Linked DNA regions of Homo sapiens. The protein of the gene in region 3 interacts with the protein of the main gene of each other region in a biochemical or structural test. Each region holds a gene or a part of one and is shown on either strand. Other genes may lie near its edges.

What was found. The genes of interacting proteins can lie anywhere in the genome.
Region 1: the proteins of PEX19 (region 3) and SLC25A17 form a complex in vitro, tested with the Homo sapiens proteins (one study listed by BioGRID and IntAct).
Region 2: the proteins of PEX19 (region 3) and ABCD2 form a complex in vitro, tested with the Homo sapiens proteins (3 studies listed by BioGRID and IntAct, with this or other methods).
Region 4: the proteins of PEX19 (region 3) and PEX2 interact in a test that uses a peptide from one of them, tested with the Homo sapiens proteins (one study listed by IntAct).

Annotation. Positions count from the first base shown.
Region 1 is NC_000022.11:40,787,324-40,792,799, forward strand, and holds part of SLC25A17 (peroxisomal membrane protein PMP34), read right to left. Parts: intron 5,354-5,476; coding exon 5,202-5,353; intron 1-5,201.
Region 2 is NC_000012.12:39,556,281-39,561,756, forward strand, and holds part of ABCD2 (ATP-binding cassette sub-family D member 2), read right to left. Parts: intron 1-5,476.
Region 3 is NC_000001.11:160,274,686-160,279,575, forward strand, and holds the end of PEX19 (peroxisomal biogenesis factor 19), read right to left. Parts: coding exon 4,866-4,890; 3' UTR 2,122-4,865; downstream 1-2,121. UniProt on the Homo sapiens protein: Necessary for early peroxisomal biogenesis. Acts both as a cytosolic chaperone and as an import receptor for peroxisomal membrane proteins (PMPs).
Region 4 is NC_000008.11:76,978,735-76,984,031, forward strand, and holds the end of PEX2 (peroxisome biogenesis factor 2), read right to left. Parts: coding exon 4,527-5,297; 3' UTR 1,524-4,526; downstream 1-1,523. UniProt on the Homo sapiens protein: E3 ubiquitin-protein ligase component of a retrotranslocation channel required for peroxisome organization by mediating export of the PEX5 receptor from peroxisomes to the cytosol, thereby promoting PEX5 recycling.

The sequences.
Region 1 (5,476 bases), on a different chromosome or scaffold from region 3:
TAATGCTTTCCCTACAGTAACAGATGCAACTGGCATAAGCAGATTTGAGAATAAACAGTTCACTCTTGGTAAGCGTAAAACTCAGTTACTAGAAGTGGAAGAGCACAGGCATCCTAGCGAGTAGCCTACCTGTTACAAGGGCTCAGCGTGCTGTGGTGTCTGCAGTCAAGATCAGTAAAGATCAAGCTTGAGGTAATTTGTATCACAGCAGATAAGATATGTCAGGCTTTTATCCTATAAAAGTATACCAGCAGGAGTCTGGTATACTGAAGGTGCCAAGCTGCATGCAAGGAACAGATACTGAAAGCTTTTAAGCAGGGATAAAACAGACTTAGAGTTTCAGAATAGCAGTTCTTGACAGTTTTCTTTTCTTCTTTTTTTTTTAGACTTGAAAAACACTTATTTTACTGTCTTCGACAACAACAACAACAACAACAAAGATAGGCAGGGAAAGTCTAGAGGACTTAGAATTGAACCAGCTCCATACAAAAATGAAGATGGTATAATGATGTGAGTTCAAAGAAAATGACTAAAACAAAATTTTACAAACATCTTTGTAGGTTTATGATAAACTGTCAACCTTCCATTTAATGCATTTACTTTTGTTTTATTTATAGAGATGGGGTCTCGCTATGTTGCCGAGATTGGTCTTGAACTCCGGAGCTCAAGCAATCCTCCCACCTTGGCCTCCCAAAGTGCTGGGATTACAGGCGTGAGCCACTGCACTTGGCCTTAATCTGTTTACTTTTATAAGCCTTCTCTATTTAGAAGTACGCACTACACAAGTACATACATTCTGGTATTTTACCATGAAAATTTCACTTTTCATCACAAACTAGTGACTTGCCTTTTTACCCATACTTATACGCATGTAATACCTTCCTAGTGGTACATCTTAATCAATATATATTTTTTAAATCTTGATTTTTAAATGAATCTTTTTAGTGCTATGACATGATGGGCTTAATTTAACAGATGAAGCATGATATGGTAACTACATTGTACTGTTTAAACTAATTCACAGCTGTAGGAAAATGTTTGATTTTTGAAATATAACCAAGATGAGGCTGGACAATAATAAACACTGGGCCGGGCGTTGCGGCTCATGCCTATAATCCCAGCACTTTGGGAGGCCAACGCAGACAGATCACGAGGTCAGGAGTTCGAGACCAGCCTGACCAACATGGTGAAACTCCATATCTACTAAAAATACAAAAATTAGCCAGGCGTGGTGGTGTGCGCCTGTAATTCCAGCTACTCAGGAGGCTGAGGCAGCAGAATCACTTGAACCTGGGAGGCAGAGGTCACAGTGAGCCAAGATCACGCCACTGCACTCCAGCCTGGGAGAGAGAGCGAGACTCCATCTCAAAAACTTAAAATAAAATAAAATAAAAACAAAACAAAACACTGAAATACTGGAAGACAGTGAATGAATAAATAATATGATTTTTCATCAGTGGCCATTCATTATTTTGCTTTTAGAAACCTGGAAGAAATTATCTTCTTTGAGTTTCAAATGTTCTGGTAAATCTAGTCATTTCTTAGCTTCCTCAAAAATCACCTTGAATTGCTGAAATAAGTGACTCTCATGAATCAAAGTTCTTTTCTGGTCTGAGGTAGCCAACAACGGCCACACTCAGGATTTCCCCATAGAAGTGCTCTTTGAAGGTATGCATGGTATGTGTTTCCATGGACTTCTTCGTATTCTCATAGTATGGGTTCCATCCTATGCTCACCACCATCTTCTGACCATCTCTACTTCCAGCACTGGCCCAACCATAATAAATGCCACTGGATATATCGGCTGGCAGATTATCTACCACTTGCTCAGGAAAATTAGCTGTGGGGGATGCCCAGCTGCTTGTAGCCACGGCCGAAGCCCCATACCACTTGGTCCCGGCAGGAGTATGACAGATGCTTCGTAATGCAGTCTGCTCGAGGCATGGGCTGCAGCCCGGTCCCTGCGTCCTACAGAGACACCGTCCACGCGGTGCCCGGACCCCGGACCAGCCACGGGGTGGGAAGGGGCGTGAGCTCTGTCTGCCGCGGGGGTGCACCAGGGGCCCGACGATGCCGATGACACGCCACGGAGGATCCCTGATGCCAGCGACTCAGGAGCTGGGTCTCCCAACCATTTTCATTTTCTTTCTTTCCTTCTTTCCCTACCTTTTAAAATATTTTATGTTTGTTTGTTTATTTAGAGGTAGAGTTTCCCTCTTGTTGCCCAGGCTGGAGTGCAGTGGCATGATCTTGGCTCACTGCAACCTCTGCCTGCCAGGTTCAAACAATTCTCCTGCCTCAGTCTCCCAAGTAGGTGGAATTACAGGCACCTGCTACCACACCTGGCTAATTTTTTGTATTTTCAGTAAAGGTGGGGTTTCACCATGTAGGCTAGGCTGTTCTCGAACTCCTGACCTCAGGTGATACACCCGCCTCAGCCTCTCAAAGTGCTGGGATTACAGGCGTGAGCCACCGCGCCTGGTCTAAAATTTATTTTTTATAGAGATGGGGTCTTGCTATGTTGCCCAGGCTGGTCTCAAACTGCGGGCTCAAGTGATCCTCCTGCCTTGACCTCCCAAACTGCTGGGATTACAGGGGTGAGCCACCACACCTGGCCTTGGACCATTTTCTGACAAGACAACAGATGATGCTCACAGTCAACACAGACCCGTAGACTCTCCTATGTGTCAACTGTAATCCTACCCCCTTCTCACACACTCAAGAAAACACTTTAGGCTGGGCGCGGTGGCTCACGCCTGTAATCCCAGCACTTTGGGAGGCCGAGGCAGGCAGATCACCTGAGGTCAGGAGTTTGAGACCAGCCTGGCCAACATGGTGAAACCCTATCTTTACTAAAAATATAAAAAATTAGCTGGGCATGGTGGTGGGTGCCTGTAATCCCAGCTACTCAGGTGGCTGAGGTAGGAAAATTGCTTGAACCCAGGAGGTGGAGGTTGCAGCAATCCAAGATTATGCCACTGCACTCCAGCCTGGGCAACAGAGTGAGACACAATCTCAAAAAAAAAAAAAAAAAAAAAAGTGGAAGAGTGAACTTTAAAGTTAAAATACAACAATTAAGGTTAGTAGGCTATTTATTATATGTGTTACTTTAACTGACTTTTTAAAATTGAGCCCTGAAAAAAAAAAGAAAAAAATTGTTCATGAGCCCTGAAAAAAAAATTTTAGACAAGTGGAAAAAAGTAAAAAATGAAAGCTAACTGCCCTACTATACCAGTCCAGCTGTGTTAGGTATGGGGGAGTCTGCTGTAATCCTAAATTGCACTAAGAGTTAGAAAGATGAACAGGACAGAGAGAGTAACACAGGGGTGGTATATATCTGGTGGGTAATGGGATGGCAGACACAGCAAATAAACCGCTTTGGACAATTTAAAAAGCAAAAGATTTCAACATATAGTCCATGAATTAGAAGTTTCATGGAAAGTTATATGAGTTAGTCCCTGTAAGTTATAATCTTTCAAATGCAAATACATATAAACTAATCTAAAATGATTAAAATCAAAGTATTACAAATAACTGGTCTCAAGTATAGAAGATCCCACTAGATTGCCATTTGTTGTAATTTATGTAAAAAACAAGTCTTTTTCTGTACAGGAACTATTCTAATTTTTTTCCCCAAGTGAACAAATCTCAAACTTGAGTTCTTTGAGTCGTGATACTCTTTGAAAACTACTCTCCTAGAAAGGCTGCAAAACTGTGCAAAGTGGGTTCATGAGGAAGACCTCAAAGGGAAGATCAGACTATAGTGCAATAGTCCAGGTGAGCAATGATAAGGTTTGATTTGGGGAAATGGCTATGGATATGGAGAAGAGGAAATGGATCCAAGAGACAGTGAGGAGACAGACCAGTGGTTCTTGATGGCCAAGCAGATGTGGAGGGTGGGAAGGCACGAAGAGCCTGTGATGACTCCTAGACTTCTATCCTGAGTTATTTATCCAAAATTCAACTTCTCTCCCCTTCTCTCTAAGCACATGGCTGGTTCCTCTGGCCACCAGCCTCCATCCTGAAGCTATCTAGGAGCCCACCAATAGTAACTTTATTAGCCTAAACTCAGAGATAGTTCAAAGGGGCTCATTAGGAATAACAAAAGATACTACTACTCAGGAAATTCCAATGGTTTTAGGAACTGTGCCAGGAACCAGGGACAAAGGCCACATACATTTTTTATTATACCACATACAGACATCCTACAACTTCAGAGCAAAAAAATGTAATAACCTGATTAAAAAATAGACAAAGAACCAGAACAGACATTTCTGCAAAGATAATATACAAATGGCCAACAAACATATGAAAAGTGATGTTCAGCATCACTAATCATCAGAGAAATGCAAATCAAAGCCACAGTGAGATATCACCTCATACCCATTAGGATGGCTACTATCATAAAACAGAAAGTAAGTGTTAGTGAGGATGTGGAAATATGGGAACTTCTGTGTACTGTTGGTGGGATTATAAATGTTACAGTGTTATGGAAAACAGTATGGAGGTTCCCGAGAAAACTGAACAGAATTCCAAATGATCCAGCAATCCCACTTCTGGGTATATATCCAGAAGAATGGAAAGCAGGCTCTCAAAGAGAGAGCTACACATCCATTTTCATAGCACTATTCACAACAGCCAAAAGATGGAAGCAACTTAAGTGCCTATTAACAGATGAATGGATAAACAGAATGTGATATATACATATAATGGAATATTATTCAGTCATAAAAAAGTAAGGAAGTCATGTCACATGCTGTATGGCATGGATGAAAGTAGAAGACATTATACTAAGTGAAGTAAGCCAGTCACAAAAAAAACAAGTAGTGTATGATTCGACTTATATCAAGTATCTAAAGTAGTCAAATTCTTAGAAACCGAAAGTAGAATGGTGGTTACTAAGGGGCTCAGGGAAAGGGAAAAGGGGAGTTTAATGAGAATAGAATCAGGTCTGCAATATGCAAAAGTACTGGAGATTTGTTTCATAACATTGTGAACATGTTTAACACTACTGACCTTACACTTAAAATTAACATGGTAAATTTTATGTCACGTTTTTTAACACAATTAAAAAAAAAAAAACCAAGTTGGAAAACTGGCTATATTCTTTGTAAGCATTACTTTGGGCTAAATAACCTCTTAGAGGATATAAAACCACAAGGTAAATATAAAAACATTTTATACCCAGAAAACCTTGTTACCTGCAACAAACCCAACTACCAGATCTTTTCCAGTGGTAGAATGTTGACCTTTGACCCAGAGTGCTTTGAGGCTATTAAAAGTGTAGAAATAGACAAAATTGGAGCAGCAGAGACTGGAAATCACTGGAAACCACCCTCGATATGGTGCCAGGCTAGGGGAAAAACACAATAAGCAAAGTAAAGGTCATGGACAAATTAGAAATTGGCAGAGAAATCCTAGGAAAGGCTGACCATCATTCACATGGTCTCAAGCTTCACTCCTACACGAATACAAG
Region 2 (5,476 bases), on a different chromosome or scaffold from region 3:
ATAATATGGTTTTTCTGCATCCCCACCCAAAATCTCATTTTGAATTGTAATCCCCATAAGCCCCATGTGTCAAGGAAGAGACAAGGCGTAGGCAGTTGGATCATGGGGGTGGTTTTCCCCATGCTGTTCTCATAATAATGAGTGAGTTTTCATGAGATCTGGTGGTTTTATAAGTGTTTGGTAGTTCCTCCTGTGTTCGTTCTCTTTCTTGCTGCCTTGTGAAGAAGGTGCCTTTCTTCCCGTTTGCCTTCCACCATGATTGTAAGTTTCCTGAGGCCTCCCCAGCCATGCTGAACTGTGAGTCAATTAAACCCTTTTTCCTTTATAAATTACCCGGTCTAGGGCAGTTCTTTATAGCGATATGAAAACAGACTAATACAGTAAATTGGTACTGGTAGATGGGGTGCTGCTATAAAGATACCCAGGCCTAACATGGTGGCTCATGCCTGTAATCCCAGCACTTTGGGAGTCTGAGGCAGGTGGATCATGAGGTCAGGAGTTCAAGACCAGCCTGGCCAAGATGGTGAAACCCCATCTCCACAAAAATACAAAAATTAGCTGGGCGTGAAGGCGGGTGCCTGTAATCCCAGCTACTCAGGAGGCTGAGGCAGGGAATTGCTTGAACCCAGGAGGCAGATGTTGCAGTGAGCCAAGATCACACCACTGCACTCCAACCTGGGTGACAGAGTGAGACTCTGTCTCAAAAAAAAAAAAAAAGATTCCCAAAAATGTGGAAGTGACTTTGGAACTGGGTAACAGGCAGAGATTGAAACAATTTTGAGGGCTCAGAAGATGGGAAGATGTGGGAAAGTTTGGAATTTCCTAGGGACTTATTGAATTGCTTTGACCAAAATGCTGATAGTAATATGAGCAGTGAAGGCCAGGCTGAAGTAGTCTCAGATGAAGATGAGAATCTTCTTGGGAACTAGAGCAAAGCTGACTCTTGCTATGTTTTAGCAGAGACTGGTGGCATTTTGCCCCTGCCCTAGAGGTCTATGGAACTTTGAACTTGAGAGAGATGATTTAGGCAGAAGAAATTTCTAAGCAGCAAAGCATTTAAGATGTAATCTGGGTGCTCTTAAAAGTGTTCAGTTTTATGCTTCACAAAGAGATGATTTGGAATTGGAACTTATGTTTGAAAGGAAAGCAGAGCATAAAAGTTTAGAAAATTTACAGCCTGGCGATGCAATGGAAAAGAAAAACCCCTTTTCTTGGGAGAAATTCAAGCCAGCTGCAGAAATTTGCATAAGTAATGAGGAACCAAATGTTAATCACCAAGACAATGGGGAAAATGTCTCCAAGGCATGTAAGTGGTCTTCATGGCAGCCCTGGAGGCATAGGAGGTAAAAATGGTTTCCTGGGCCAGGTCCAGGAACTTGCTGCTTTGTGCAGTCTCAGGACTTGGTGCCCTATGTCCCAGCTGTGGCTAAAATGGGCCAAGGTACAGCTCAGGCCATTCCTTCTGAGGGTACAAGCCCCAGTCCTTGGTGGTTGGACCTGTGGTGCACAGAAGTCAAGAAATGAGGTTTGGAAAGCTCTGCCTAGATTTCAGAGGATGTATGGAAACACCTGGATGTCCAGGCAGAAGTTTGCTGCAGGGTCAGAGCCCTTATGGAGAACCATTGCTAGGGTAGTGCAGAAGGAAAATGTGAGGTCAGAGCCCCCACTGGGGCATTGCCTAGTGGAGCTGTGAGAAGAGGGCCACCATCCCCCAGACCACAGAATGGTAGATCCACTAACAGCTTGCACCATGCACCTGGAAAAGCAGCAGACACTCAATGCCAGCCCATGAAAGCAGCCATACCCTGCAAAGCTACAGGGGTGAGCAGCCCAAGGCTATGGGAGCCCAACTCTTGCATCAGCAGCACCTGGATGTGAGATATGGAGTTAAAGATTATTTCAGAGCTTTAAGATTTGACTGATCCACTGGATTTAGGATTTGCACAGGGCCTATAGCCCCTTCTTTTTGGCCAATTTGGAATGGGTGTATTTGCCCATTTCATGTACCCCCATTATATCTAGGAAGTAACTAACTTTGGACTTGGACTCTTGGGTTAATGCTGGAATGAGTTAAGACATTGAGGGGCTGTTGGAAGGGCATGATTATGTTTTGAAAGTGAGGACATAAGATTTGGGAGGGGCCAGGGCGAAATGATACAGTTTGGCTGTTTCCTTACCCAAAATCTTATCTTGAATTGTATTCCCCAAAATCTCCACGTGTCAAGGGAAAGACCAGGTGGAGGCAATTGGATCATGATGGGGTTTCCCCCATGTTGTTCTCATGATAGTGATTGAATTCTCTTGAGATCTGATGGTATTATAAGTGTTTTGTAGTTCCTCCTGAGTTCATTCTCCTTCCTGCCACCTTGTGAATAAGGTGCTTTGCTTCCCCCTCACCTTCTGCCACGATCATAAGTTTTCTGAGGCCTCCCCAGCCATCCTGAACTGTGAGTCAATTAAGCCTCTTTTCTTTATAAATTATCCAGTCTCAGGCAGTTCTTTATAGCAGTATGAAAATGAACTAATACAGCGCACTTCAATAAAATACAGAGAAACAATTCAGAAATCTATTAGAGAAATGCAACAGATATGAAATAATGGGAAAAAAGCCAGAAATGCTGGAGCTGAAAAATACAATGAAAAAAATTAAAAATGCAATGGAGACATCAATAGCAGAATTTATCAAACAGAAGAAAAAAATATGTGAACTTGAAAACAGGTTACTTGCAAACTTATGATATGAAGAAAGAATGAAAAGGAATGAAGAAAGCTTATGGGACTTATGGAATAGCATCAAAAGAGCAAATGTCGCCTGGACATGGTGGCTCATGCCTGTAATCCCATCACTTCGGGAGGCTGAGGTGGGTGGATAATGTGAGGTCAGGAGTTCAAGACCAGCCTGACCAACCTGGTGAAACCCTGTCTCTACTAAAAATACAAAATTAGCCCAGCGTGGTGGTGTGTGCCTGTACTCTCAGCTATTTGGGATGCTGAGGCAGGGCAGGAGAATTGCTTGAATCCAGGAAGCGGAGGTTGCAGTGAGCTAAGATCACACCATTGCACTCCAGCCTGGGTGACAAGAGTGAGACTCCAGCTCCAAAAAAAAAAAAAAAAAAAAAAAGGAAATATATGAGTTGTTGGTATTCAAGAAGGAGTTAAGAAAGATAAAGATTTATAAAGCTTATTTAAATAAATCATAGCAGAAACATTTCAAAATCTGGAGACATATAACTATCTAGGTACAGGAAGGTCAAAAGTCTTCAATCATACTCAATCCAAATAAGACTACCCGATGATATATTACAATCAAACTGCCAAAAACCAAAGACAAAGAGAGAAACCTGAAAGCAAGAAAAAAAAATAACACATAAGGGAGTTCTAATATGACTGTTACCAGCTTTTTCAGCAGAAACCTCACAGGCCAGGAGAGAATGGAATTACATATTCAACGTGCTGAAGGGAAAAAACCTTTCAGCCAAGAATTCTGTTCTTAGCAAAATTGTCCTTTGGAAATGAAAGAGATAGACTTTCCCACACAAACTAAGCTGAGGGGCTTTATCACCACCAGATATGTCTTATAAGGAGTACTAAAGGGAGTTCTTCACATTGAAAGAAATGATGCTAATGGGTAATAAGAAAACATTAGAAAGTATAAAACTCACTGGTAAAAGCAAGTAAACAGTCAAATTCAGAATACTCAAATAATATAAAGGGGTTATGTAAATCACTTATTTCTTTTTTTTATTATACTTTAAGTTCTAGGGTACATGTGCACAATGTGCAGGTTTGTTACATACGTATACGTGTGCCATGTTGGTGTGCTGCACCCATTAACTCATCATTTACATTAGGTATATCTCCTAATGCTATCTCTCCCTGCTGCCCCCACCCCACAACAGGCCCCGGTGTGTGATGTTCCCCTTCCTGTGTCCAAGTGTTCTCATTGTTCACTTCCCACCTATGAGTGAGAACATGTGGTGTTTGGTTTTTTGTCCTTGTGATAGTTTGCTGAGAATGATGGTTTCCAGCTTCATCCATGTCCCTACAAAGGACATGAACTCATCCTTTTTTATGGCTGCATAGTATTCCATGGTGTATATGTGCCACATTTTCTTAATCCAGTCTATCATTGATGGACATTTGGGTTGGTTCCAAGTCTTTGCTATTGGTAAATCACTTATTTCTTTAGTATGAAGACAAAAAGACAAAACTATTAAAAATTATAACCATTAAAATAATTTGTTAAAGTATATACAATATAAAAAGATGTAAATTGTGACACTAAAAATTCAAAATGGGGAGATGAAGGGTAAAGGTTGTGTTTTTTTGCAATTTGTATATACTTTAACAACTAAAATAATCTGTTAACATATATACAATATAAAAAGATGTAAATTGTGATATTAAAAATTCAAAATGGGGAGATAAAGGGTAAAGATTGTGCCTTTTTTGCAATTAAATTAAAGTTGTTATGAACTTAAAATAACATGTTATAAGATGTTTTTATAAGCCTCATGGTAACCATGAAGCAAAAACATATAATAGGTACAAAAATAACATGTTTAACTATAAGATGTTTTTGGTAAGCCTCATGGTAACTACAGAGCAAAAATCTGTAGTAGACGCACTAAAAATAAAAAGCAAGGAATCAAAGCATATTACTAAAGAAAATCACTTACCCACAAAGAAAGACTGTGAGAAGAAAAAAGGAAGAAAATATCTACAAAACAACTAGAAAGCAATTAACAAAATGACAGGAGTAATTCCTTACCTATTAATAATTACCTTGAATATTAATGGATTAAGTTCTCCAATTAAAACACATAGTTTCTGGGCCAGGTGCAGTGGCTCACGTCTGTAATCTCAGTGCTTTTGGAGGCTGAGGTGGGCAGATCACTTGAGGTCAGGAGTTTGAGACCAGCCTGGCCAACATGGTGAAACCCCGTCTCTACTAAAAAAAAAAATAGCTGGGTTTTGTGGTGGACCCCTGTAATCCTAGCTACTAAGGAGGCTGAGGCAGGAGAATCACTTGAACCTGGAAGCAGAGGTTGCAGTGAGCTGAGATCACACCACTGCACTCCAGCCTGGGCTTCAAAGCAAGACTCTGTCTCAAAAAAAAAAAAAAAAAAGACAGTGTCTGGATTAAAAAGCAAGACCCAACTGTGCGCTGCTTACAGGAGACTCACTTCATCTGCAAGGACAATATAGACTAAAAGTGAAGGAATGCAAAAGATATTTTATCCAAATGAAAACTAAAAGGCATCAGGAGTAGCTATACTAATGTCAGGTAAAATAGACTTTAAGTGAAAGCTATAAAAGAGGCCAAGAATGTTATTATATAATAATAAACAGGTCAATTCAGCAAGAAGATATGATAATTCTGAATATATTTGAACCCAACATCAGAGCACATATATAAATCAAATACTCCTAGATCTGAAAGAAGTGAACTACAATACGAGTAGGAGACTTCAAC
Region 3 (4,890 bases):
CCCTTTTCCTGGAATATAACTTCTAAAATCCTTAAAATCTTCAAAGTGATGTCTTATTGTATTCCAATGAGTTGACTGATGGTTGGCATCCCCTAGGTAGCTTCAGGTTCAGGGTCAGTCAACAAAAAGACCAAAGCAGTATTAGAGGGTTGGAACTTTCAACCCCACCCCCAAACCTCTAGGGAGGACAGAGGGGCTGAATTTTAAATTAATCACCAATGGCCAATGGTTCAGCTAATCATGCCTATATATAAAGCCTCCATAAAAACCCAAAAAGACAAGATCTAGACAGCTTCCAAGATGTCAAACACATGAGGGTTTATAGAATGAGGGGTCCCCAACACCTGGGCCACGAACCAGTACCAGTCCATGGCTTGTTAGGAACTGGGCCTCACAGCAGGAGGTGAGTGGCAGGTGGGCCAGCAATACCGCCTAAGCTCCACCTCCTGTCAGATCAGCAGTGGCACTAGATTCTCAGAGGAGTGCAAACCCTATTGTGAACTGCACATGCGAGGGATCTAGGTTGTGTGCCCCTTATGAGAATCTAGCTAATGCCTGATGATCCGAGGTAGAACAGTTTCATCCCAAAACCATCCCCCCACCCCCCTCTGTGGAAAACTTGTCTTCTATGAAACTGGTCCCTGGTGCCAAGAATGTTGGGGACCGCTGTCCTAAATGGTGGCATGCCCAGAGAAGGAATGGAAGCTCTGCAACCTTGCCTTATACATCTTTTCATCTTTTTTTTTTTGAGAGATGGAGTCTTGCTCTGTCTGTTGCCCAGGCTGGAGTACAGTGGCACAGTCTCAGCTCACTGCAACCTCCGCCTCCCCAGTTCAAGCAATTCTCCTTCCTCAGCTTCCCAAGTAGCTGGGACTACAGGCATGCACCACCACACCCAGCTAAATTTTGTATTTTTTTAATAGAGACGGGGTTTCACTATGTTCGCCAGGCTGGTCTCGAACTCCTGACCTTAGGTGATCCACCCACCTCGGCCTCCCAAAGTGTTGGGATTACAAGCGTGAGCCACTGGGTCCAGCCATGTTTTCATCTATATTCATTGTAATATCCTTTAAATAAACTGAAATATGTAAGTAAGTGTTTCCCCAAGTTTTGTGGGCCACTCTAACAAATTAACCAAACCCAAGGAGCTGGCTGTAGACACCCTGATTTATAGCACAGGCAAAATAACCCAGGAATTGCAATTGACATCAGAAGTTGGGGGGGAGAGTCTCAGTGATTGATTGGTCAACCTGTGGGATCTGACACTGTCTCCAGGTAGACAGTGTCAGAATTAAAGTAAATTAGAGGATATCCAGCTGTTATCCACTGCAGAATTGCTTGCTTGTTGAGGGGAGGGAATTCCACACGTGATTACAGAAGAGTTCTGTGTCACTCATTGTGGTGTGAGAACAGAGGATGAACAGTGCTTTTCCACTCAATGATTAACTGATAAATGTCTCTTTCCATTGATAGTTTATGAGTCTAAGAACTATCTCAGGCTTAAAAACTGGACAAGAAATGGGGACTTTTCTTTGAAGTTTCTGACTTCAGCCTTCTGTTCAACCATTCTTGATCTCCCTTATATATAAGACAATACTCTTCTTGGTTGCCCATCTATCCTGCTCCTAGGACCACTCACATTCCGTTAGCCATCTCCACTTTGACCTTGCTACCCTTAAGGAAATTTACTCACCTTGCTTCTGAGAGTTAAGTGTTGCCACCTGGCCTCTGCTATGTCAGGATCCTATCATTCCCCCACTGCTACTAGGAAAACAGTTTCTTTTACATCTTGTATCAGCTTCGATCTAGAGAGACAGCCACTTCTAAATTTCTCAAAGATGCTGGTAACCCTTCATCAGTGCCTTTCCCATTGTCTTTATTAAAAAATAATTCCCAGGTCTTTCTGGGGTAGTCAGCTGGTGGGTTTACCAGTGTTATATAACATTCATTCTTGCATACCCATTTCCTCTAAGTCTTTTGGTCCTTTTTTGTATGGTCTGCCGTCTCCACGTCATTCAATATGGGCCAATGTTTTCTCCTAGCTCCCCAAAGCCATCTTAACATCATATTATAACTGCCTCATGGGGCTTTGACAAGACCTTCCAGAGTCACAGGAAAATGTCCCAATTATCAAAAAGTCTGTATTAATTCAATTCTTAATTCATGAAGCCACCCATACAATCACAAATTTATCTAACACATTTAATTTTGGAACAAAGGAGCAACTCCTTTAAAGTTTGAGAGTCGCATAAATATTTCATATACAGCTTAAACCTAAGCTTTGTAACGATTATTTTTGAGCAGCAGAAAAGGAAGGCTAGAGAAATGCTAGAGATGTCCTTACTAGTGACACATTCTTGCTGAAGAACAAGTTCTCTGGAAGTGAAACTCAAATAGGAGAGAACAAGAGATACAGGTAGGTATCAGTTCTGCTAGGGTCTTCAGAGAGACCGAGGGCCCCAAAACAGTGCTACTCAAAGATGATCTGCAGACTTGTGCTGGTCAGTGAACACCTTTTTTTTTTTTTCACCAGTCTGTGACATGGTGAATTAGAAATTGAGAGTGTTTAAAAACTTTTTAGCATTTCAATGTTGCTGTGATATCCAAGTACATGATCAATGGACTTAACCTACAGAACAGTCTGGCCAGTTTGGGTGCTGTCAAACTTGCCGGGTCGGCAGCACACAGTGTGAACTCCATACCTGTCATGGGCAATAGGAATGCATATTGATAAGTGAAGGACTGGAAAACAAAAAACCTGGTCCTTTACCATACATAGTTTGAGAAAGACTGCCCTAGAGTACCATAACTCCACCACAAGTCCTGGAATAATTCCAAAAGTTTTTGGAACAAAGTGTGACCTGAGGTCAACCTGCTCACATTCAATCAAAATCAAAATAAAAATGAGTGCCTTGGGAACAAAGATAAAGTGGACTAGGGCATCTATTTAGATTCCTGGAGTAAGCCCTGGCTAGGCTAGCAGAAGTGAGAATCTGTAAAAGAAAACTGGTAGGACAGAAGGCACAAGGTTCATAGAGAAGGGCTCTTTTGTTCTTCCCTCCTCCTCTCTATCCTTGTCCAGTTTTTGGCTGGAGCTTTAAGGAGAAAATAGTGACACTGAAGCCCCATGACTATATCACAAGTATACCTGTATTTTTTCCATCTCTGGCAGAACAGAGACGTTTTACATTCAGATCTGGGCTCTTCCATGCTCTGGTAAGGTATAGGAGTTGGAATTTCCCAAATAGCCTGAGACCTTGAGAACATTTCCTTCCTCACCAATACCATAAAACATGTAAGGTCTTCAAGGGGTGAAAAGTTTTAACCTCGGGGCAAGTGACATGTCAGAAGCTCAAAGCGACTCATAATGCATGTGAATTTGCTTTGGAGAGACTTATCTTCTGAGTGAACCAGGACAGCCAGCTGAGCTGACCAGAGTACCTACCAACATATGTCAGCCAAGGTCCGTAGACCCACTGGGAGCCACAGAAAAAAAGCCACGTCAGCTTAAAGAAAAATAATTTAGAAAACATAACAATATATTACTAACATTAATAACAATAATGTAAAAGGTTAAAATATAATACCACTTGAAGGGCTTTCTACATTGAAATACTCAAGGGAACATGAGGAAAGATGGCCATCCAGTCTCCTTTGCCAACTGAGGTGCAGACTGAGTTGTGGAAGGTGGGTGTTGATGGAACCCAGCATTACAATATTGTGTAGAACTAGTCTCCTAATATACCTCACTCTGCAACTTACGGAAGCTGAGGAAGATCAGAAAAAGACCACACTCCTCACTCAGAATATTTATTATATTCTGCCCCATGGGGCCTTGCAGGAAAAGGGACCCAAGCTATACCCCTACTCCTTTTCCAAGCTACTTTCCTGAACCAAGGGACAGGATTCTAAGAGAATCATGTATCTCAAATAAGCCAGAATGTATCTGGGGAAGAATAGCCATTAATTTCCTAGACCTGACACTGGGTTTATTTGTGTCTGCCAGGAAGACGGGGAGTCAGTGAGAATCGTAAATGGACTAGATGAGGGGAAATAGGATGGGCCCTTCTTTATCACAGCTTGAGCTCAAAAAGGTTGGGATAAACAGGTGTTTAAAAAAGAGAGGAGGTAAAAGGGAGGATGGGCAGGGGATAGAGGAAGGTCAGGGGCTGGGTTCACCCATATCACACAGCATTGTAGGAAGAAGCAGGGTAACCATTTGAGTTCTCAGCCTGGAACAGGGAGGTGAGGGCTCAGCACCTAGAGAGAGGAGAATCCTAAGGCCTCTCTTTCAACTCTATTGTGATTAGATGCAAAAGCCCTTTCCCTTTAGAGAATTCAGAATGGTCTGTCTGAAGGCAAGAGAGCATAGTGACAGACCTGTAGCCCCAGCCCAGGCTGTTTCTCCCCATTCTCAAAGGCTCTGCCAGGAGAACTATAGAAATACAGAGTCCCAGGTCTCTGCCCCTCCTCCCCAGATCCAAGAGAGGGAGTAGAGACAAGGCACAAAGACCCTGGACGTAAAGGTGAACATCAGTGTGGCCACATATAACATTATTTTGAGAAAGGAAAGAAAGTGCATGCCCCAAAAGGGATGCCTTCCTTCACCTTGCAGGTAGCTGGAACTTTGATAGTGGCAGAAACCACAATGGAGTAGGGTTCACAGAAATGGCCTGTGAAACAGACCCTATTCCTAGAGAGACAGAGGAAAAACCTCAGCTGGTATGGCACAATCTTGAATGGGATGACAGAGGGCAGCGGGCAGACTTCTCCCGCAGGTGACACTCCTGCCTCAGGTCCCAATGGTTCTGCTGACTCCAGATGTTCCCCATAGCTGGGACTCAGAGAGGAAAACGTGTTGTGTTTCACATGATCAGACACTGTTCACCA
Region 4 (5,297 bases), on a different chromosome or scaffold from region 3:
TTCATGAATGCATTCCCTGAGTACGGAAAAGGAATGTCTGCAGGGGCTCAATAGATAATTTTTGAGAGAATGCTTTATTTAATTCCCATTAGAATTCTAACAGGTAGACATTATTGAATGTCCATTTCATAGGTGAACAAATTGAATCTTAAGTTAAATGAACTTGTCCCAAATCCAGTCACTAAATACTGAAAGCAGGGGAGCTGAGAGCAAAGTAGTAGGACATGCCTTGTGTGAGCTCTGATTGATATCTGAGTAATTTAGATATGATCACTGAAGTCACTTGGGTACTTTAAATACAAAAGTAGCAAACTTGATTTGAGAGCAAGTGCAAGGGAGAGAAAAGAAAAATGTTAAGTGTAAATGTTTTTATTTTCCTAAGGAAGAACACTTGTAACTGATGGTTACATACTTGAGGCTAACATGGAAACATATCATGTAGCTAAATCCCATCCAGTTTTCCTAAAGCTTGAGCCTGGAGCCTGCTGGGGAGTAGAAACAGTCGCACCAGAGGTATAGCAACTCTTCTGGCAGTGCCCAGAGAGGCAGAGACTGAATGGAGTTCCTGGGGGCTGTCATAGCAACTTGGCCAAGAAGTCTGGTATTTGTAGTGGGGCAGAGATACTCAAGAGACACTTGGGTGTGTCAGTCATAAATCTATTGTTTATAAACGAACACTACCTGGCATTAGTGTGTTGTTTGTCCAGTGTACTATATGCAAGAAAAACAAAAAAAAAGGAAACCAGAAAGGAAAAAATGGACAGTATTAGATGTGGTACACACCAAGATATGCCACCTGGCTCCTCCTGCAAGGATGTACATGGTGCCCAGCTGTGGAATGTGGTCAGTGGACTGCCTCCAGCTGTTGGCTCCCACAGGATCTGCTTCCGCTACAGAGCTGCCATGCTTGAGATCACAACCTTCCCAGAGCTGCCCACACCCAGTGACTGACAGAAGTGTAGGTAAAAAGGCCTATTTACTTTGGCCTAATTTAGGACATTCTGACAGATGACACTAGCTCAGAGCTCCCCTCTGGGCTGGCCAACTTTTTTCAGGCCTGCTTTAGAGTACTCTCATTTCTTCTGCCTATTCCTGCTTTGCTCTTTCCCTTCACAGGCATGGATCCCTGAGAGTTATACATAAAAATCTCTTGTACTTCAAACCCCTTTCAACGCCAGCTTCTGCAGAACCCTATCTGCGACCTTAGGTTTATTCAGCTAATAAAATGTTTCTATTGCTACACTAGAACTAAAAGGCTCTGGCTATCTAGTGATGAACAAAATAGTCATGGTCTCTGAACTCATGGGGGTTATCACCTAGTAGGGGTGGCAGATGTTAAATAAAAATGAAAAATAATAAAAACCTATTTTTACTAAGTGCCATTAGGGTCTGTGGAAAAAAACCACCCCCTACCCCAATACTGACAAGTCTATCAGCTGGCATATATGTAAAGTACTGTTTTCTTAAGATTTTGAGAATATGGATAACTACTTAGAAGTTACTCTATCAAAATAATACAATTGTTGATATAACAATTTTGTTGACTTTATTTAATCCTTTCAAATCTGCAATGTTAAAGAATCATCCAGTTACTTATGAATGTCCTTATCAAGCTAGATCACTGGTAAAATGAGACTGCAATGTGGACTTTTGAAATGAGTAAGGCAAATGTAGACTCTAACTAGTAGAGATCTGCCAGCATCCACCCTTCTAAGAACACCTCAGTTTCCTGTGGTGAACGGCCTCCTCCAGGACTCCTTTAGGTTCATGTGGTATATGGGAGGAGCATCACCTACATTTAAGTAACCAGGAACAGTATTTTCCATCCCCTAGCTATAGTGGCTGGTTCAGGAATGTGCACATAATCCAAGGCAGACCAGTAACAGTGAGCTCCTGGACTTTAGCTGTAACTATTAGGCAAGAGTATCTCATGCCAGTGGGATCAGAAAGCTAGCAGATTATAAGCCTTGAGCTTCTAGCGGCCATCATTCTGTGTGAGAATGAAACCGACTCAGAGTAATACTGACAACAGCAAAGGAAAGCACTACTATTATATTCTATTTACTATGTGTCAGGCATTGTTTTAAGAGCTTTATATACACTAAACATGTAATCCTTACAATGAACAGATGTGCAGAGATGTGGCACATTGCCCTAGGTTATACACAAGTGGGATTTGAATTCTAGCGGAATCTGTGTCCCTCATGCCATGTACACTCATCAAAAAAATGAGAGCCAAAGGATAAAGCCTGTCTCAAAGAGAACCATCTGAGCACCTACATCCAGACTGGGCCTGCAGTGTGCAGCTGGACTCTTCACTTAATGAACTCAGATTCAACATTGCATTATTCACAACAGAAAGTGAAAAGAACCTAAATGCTCTATGATGGTGGTTAAATAATAATAGGAATAGGAATATGATGGCATATACATAGCATTTTAAAAATATATTATGGCTGGGTGCAGTGGCTCATGCCTGTAATCCCACAACTTTGGGAGGCCAGGGTAGGAGGACTGCTTGAGCCCAGAAGTTCAAGACCAGCCTGGGCAACAAAGTGAGACCTCATCTCTACAAAAATTAGCCAGGCATGGTGGTATGGGCCTGTGGTCCCAGCAACTTGGGAGGCTCAGATGGGAGGATCGCTTGAGCCCTGGGAGGGAAAGGCTGCGGTTAGCCATGATCACACCACTGCACTCCAACCTGGGTGACTGGGTGAGGCCCTTTCTCACCAAAAACAAACAAACAAACAAAAAACAAAGACGTTTGTATATATTTTTATTTTTTTAGAAACGAACTCAAACTCCTGGGCTCAGCCTCCCTAAGTAGGGAGCCTGGGATTACAGGCATGAGCCATTGTGCTCAGCCCTAAAATAGTTTTGAAGAATATTTATACATAGGAAAAAATGCTATTTTTTATGCATTATAATAATTTTGTAAATAAGAAATGTACGTGCAACAAATCTACAAATATAGTAAAATATAGTGATGATCTCTCTCAAAAAATTGTGGGAAAGTTGATTTTATATTTTTTCCTGAATTGTTGGTGTTTTCTACAATAATGTTTTAAAATTACAGAAGGCAAAAGAAGGCAAATTCTTAAGATGTAAAATACTCTTAACTCAAACTACAAAACTTCTTCAGTATCTTACACTAAATTGAACCTAAATTAAACTTACAGTTCATTCAATCACAGAATGTAAACTCCATGAAGGTAACTTGATTTTTCCTGCTTAATATACTGTTGTGCCTCTAATGGCTACATCAGTACCTGGCACCTGAGTACTTGTTCAATGAAAGGTGAAGAGAAAAATGAACTGGCAGTGTATTTCCATCATACTAGCAAGATGTTTATTTAAAAACATTTAAAAACTGTTTTTTAAAAAACATTCTAGTTAAGACGAGATAATTCAATGTTCAAGCTAATAATTCTATACCATTTTAAGAGTCTGAATTTACTTTTAAGTAAAAAAAGGCAGAGAAAAAGAGTGAAGGATACAGAATTATCTTGATTATGCACTGCTGTTACTATTCCCATGCTAAAGACCCCTTTTGTTTCAATAAAACTATCAATATTTACTGAGAATGACAGCTCTGAATCAAAGGCAAGAGAAAGAGACCTGTAAATAGTGCTGTTCATACTAGTTGCCCCCAGTAGTTCCCAGGCCTCACTTCCAAGCTGCCTTAAGTAATTTTTACTTTCTGAATATAAAGCCAACTGTGGAGGGGTCAGACAGCTGAGGACTGAACTTCTTAAAAATTGGCTTCAGAGAAAAGCATAACATTACAACTGAGGCGGCCAAGCACAGTGGCTCACGTCTGTAATCTCAGCACTTTGGGAGGCTGACGCAGGTGGATCACCAGATCAGGAGATAGAGACCATCCTGGCTAACACAGTGAACCCCATCTCTACTAAAAATACAAAAATTACCCGGGCATGGTGGCATGCACCTGCAGTGCCAGCTACTCGGGAGGCTGAGGCAGGAGAATTGCTTGAACCCGGGAGGCGGACGTTGCAGTGAGCAGAGATCGCGCCACTGCACTCCAGCCTGGGTGACAGAGCAGGACACCGTCTCAGAAAAAAAAAAAAAAGTTACAACTGAGGCATCAGGTCTTAAGGTTTAAAACAGTCTCATAATTGTCACATTATCATATTATGTCAACTCTGAAAATAAATGCACACTCATCCCAGAGTCTCCAAAATCTTTATCTTTAGAATCCAACCTTGTTTTAAGAAGTAGTAAAATGAAGGAGCATTGTTAGTAGTCACCTGACAAAAGCTGTCCATTATTCTTGACATTAAAAATTGAATGCAATGATTTAAAAAACATAATACATTAACATTTACATAATATATTTAGAATCACATGGTTTCCAGTGATTAGATTTCAGTCATGCCTGGAAAGGAGAAGACAGTGGCTAGGAGCACATTCCTTATAAAGGATACATAAATGGTATACTTAGGATGACTAATATTAAGAATTTAAACACGGTGCATTTTTTTCCTCAAAGGAAGCAATTTTAGTTTCTAAAGAGCATTTACTTCTGACATCTCGATTCCTGATTTCAGTGGCTGCAGACTGTGTACTTCTGTGCCACACTTAGGACAAGTAAAGTACACGTCAAATAAGAAACTACTCTTAGCACAGAAATAACAGAAAATATGCTCACATCCTATGGTGTGAGGCATGGTGGGCCACTCTCCACATAGAGCGCATTCTTTGCCACTGGTGGCTAATGTATTGTCACTATTAGGTGCACCAGTAAGAGGAATACACCATGAAGACAGCTTGGCTTTCAACTTCTGGACATTGATAAGTGGTAAGAGAAAAATCAGAAATTCAGCAAAACCATGCCAGAGAAGTTCCCTATTCATGTATTCAAAGCCAACTTCACATATGTTTTGAGGCTTGCAAAATACAGAATGAATACCTAGGAGACGTTCTGTCAAAGTTGCAAACTTTCCCCTCTGAAGGAAAATCAAAAAATTAATCAGCCCACCTAATTTCAAAAGTCCAATCACAAAATTCACACACTGCTTGACTTTCCCAAATGATGCTAAATGATGGTTTCGAAACAAATCATAGCATCGTTCTTCTAACCACCTGCCACCAATTGTACAAACAGCATACCAGATTTTTTGATTTTTACTGGGTGGCTGATATCTCAGGTTAGGGGAAAAATCATTTTTGTACTTAATATTCAAAACTGACTGTCCCACTGTGGCATTTTTGGAGTAGATGGTGAATCTCCACAAGAAAACCCATAAGCACGCTTTCACCTCTGGCTCAAAGCGAGC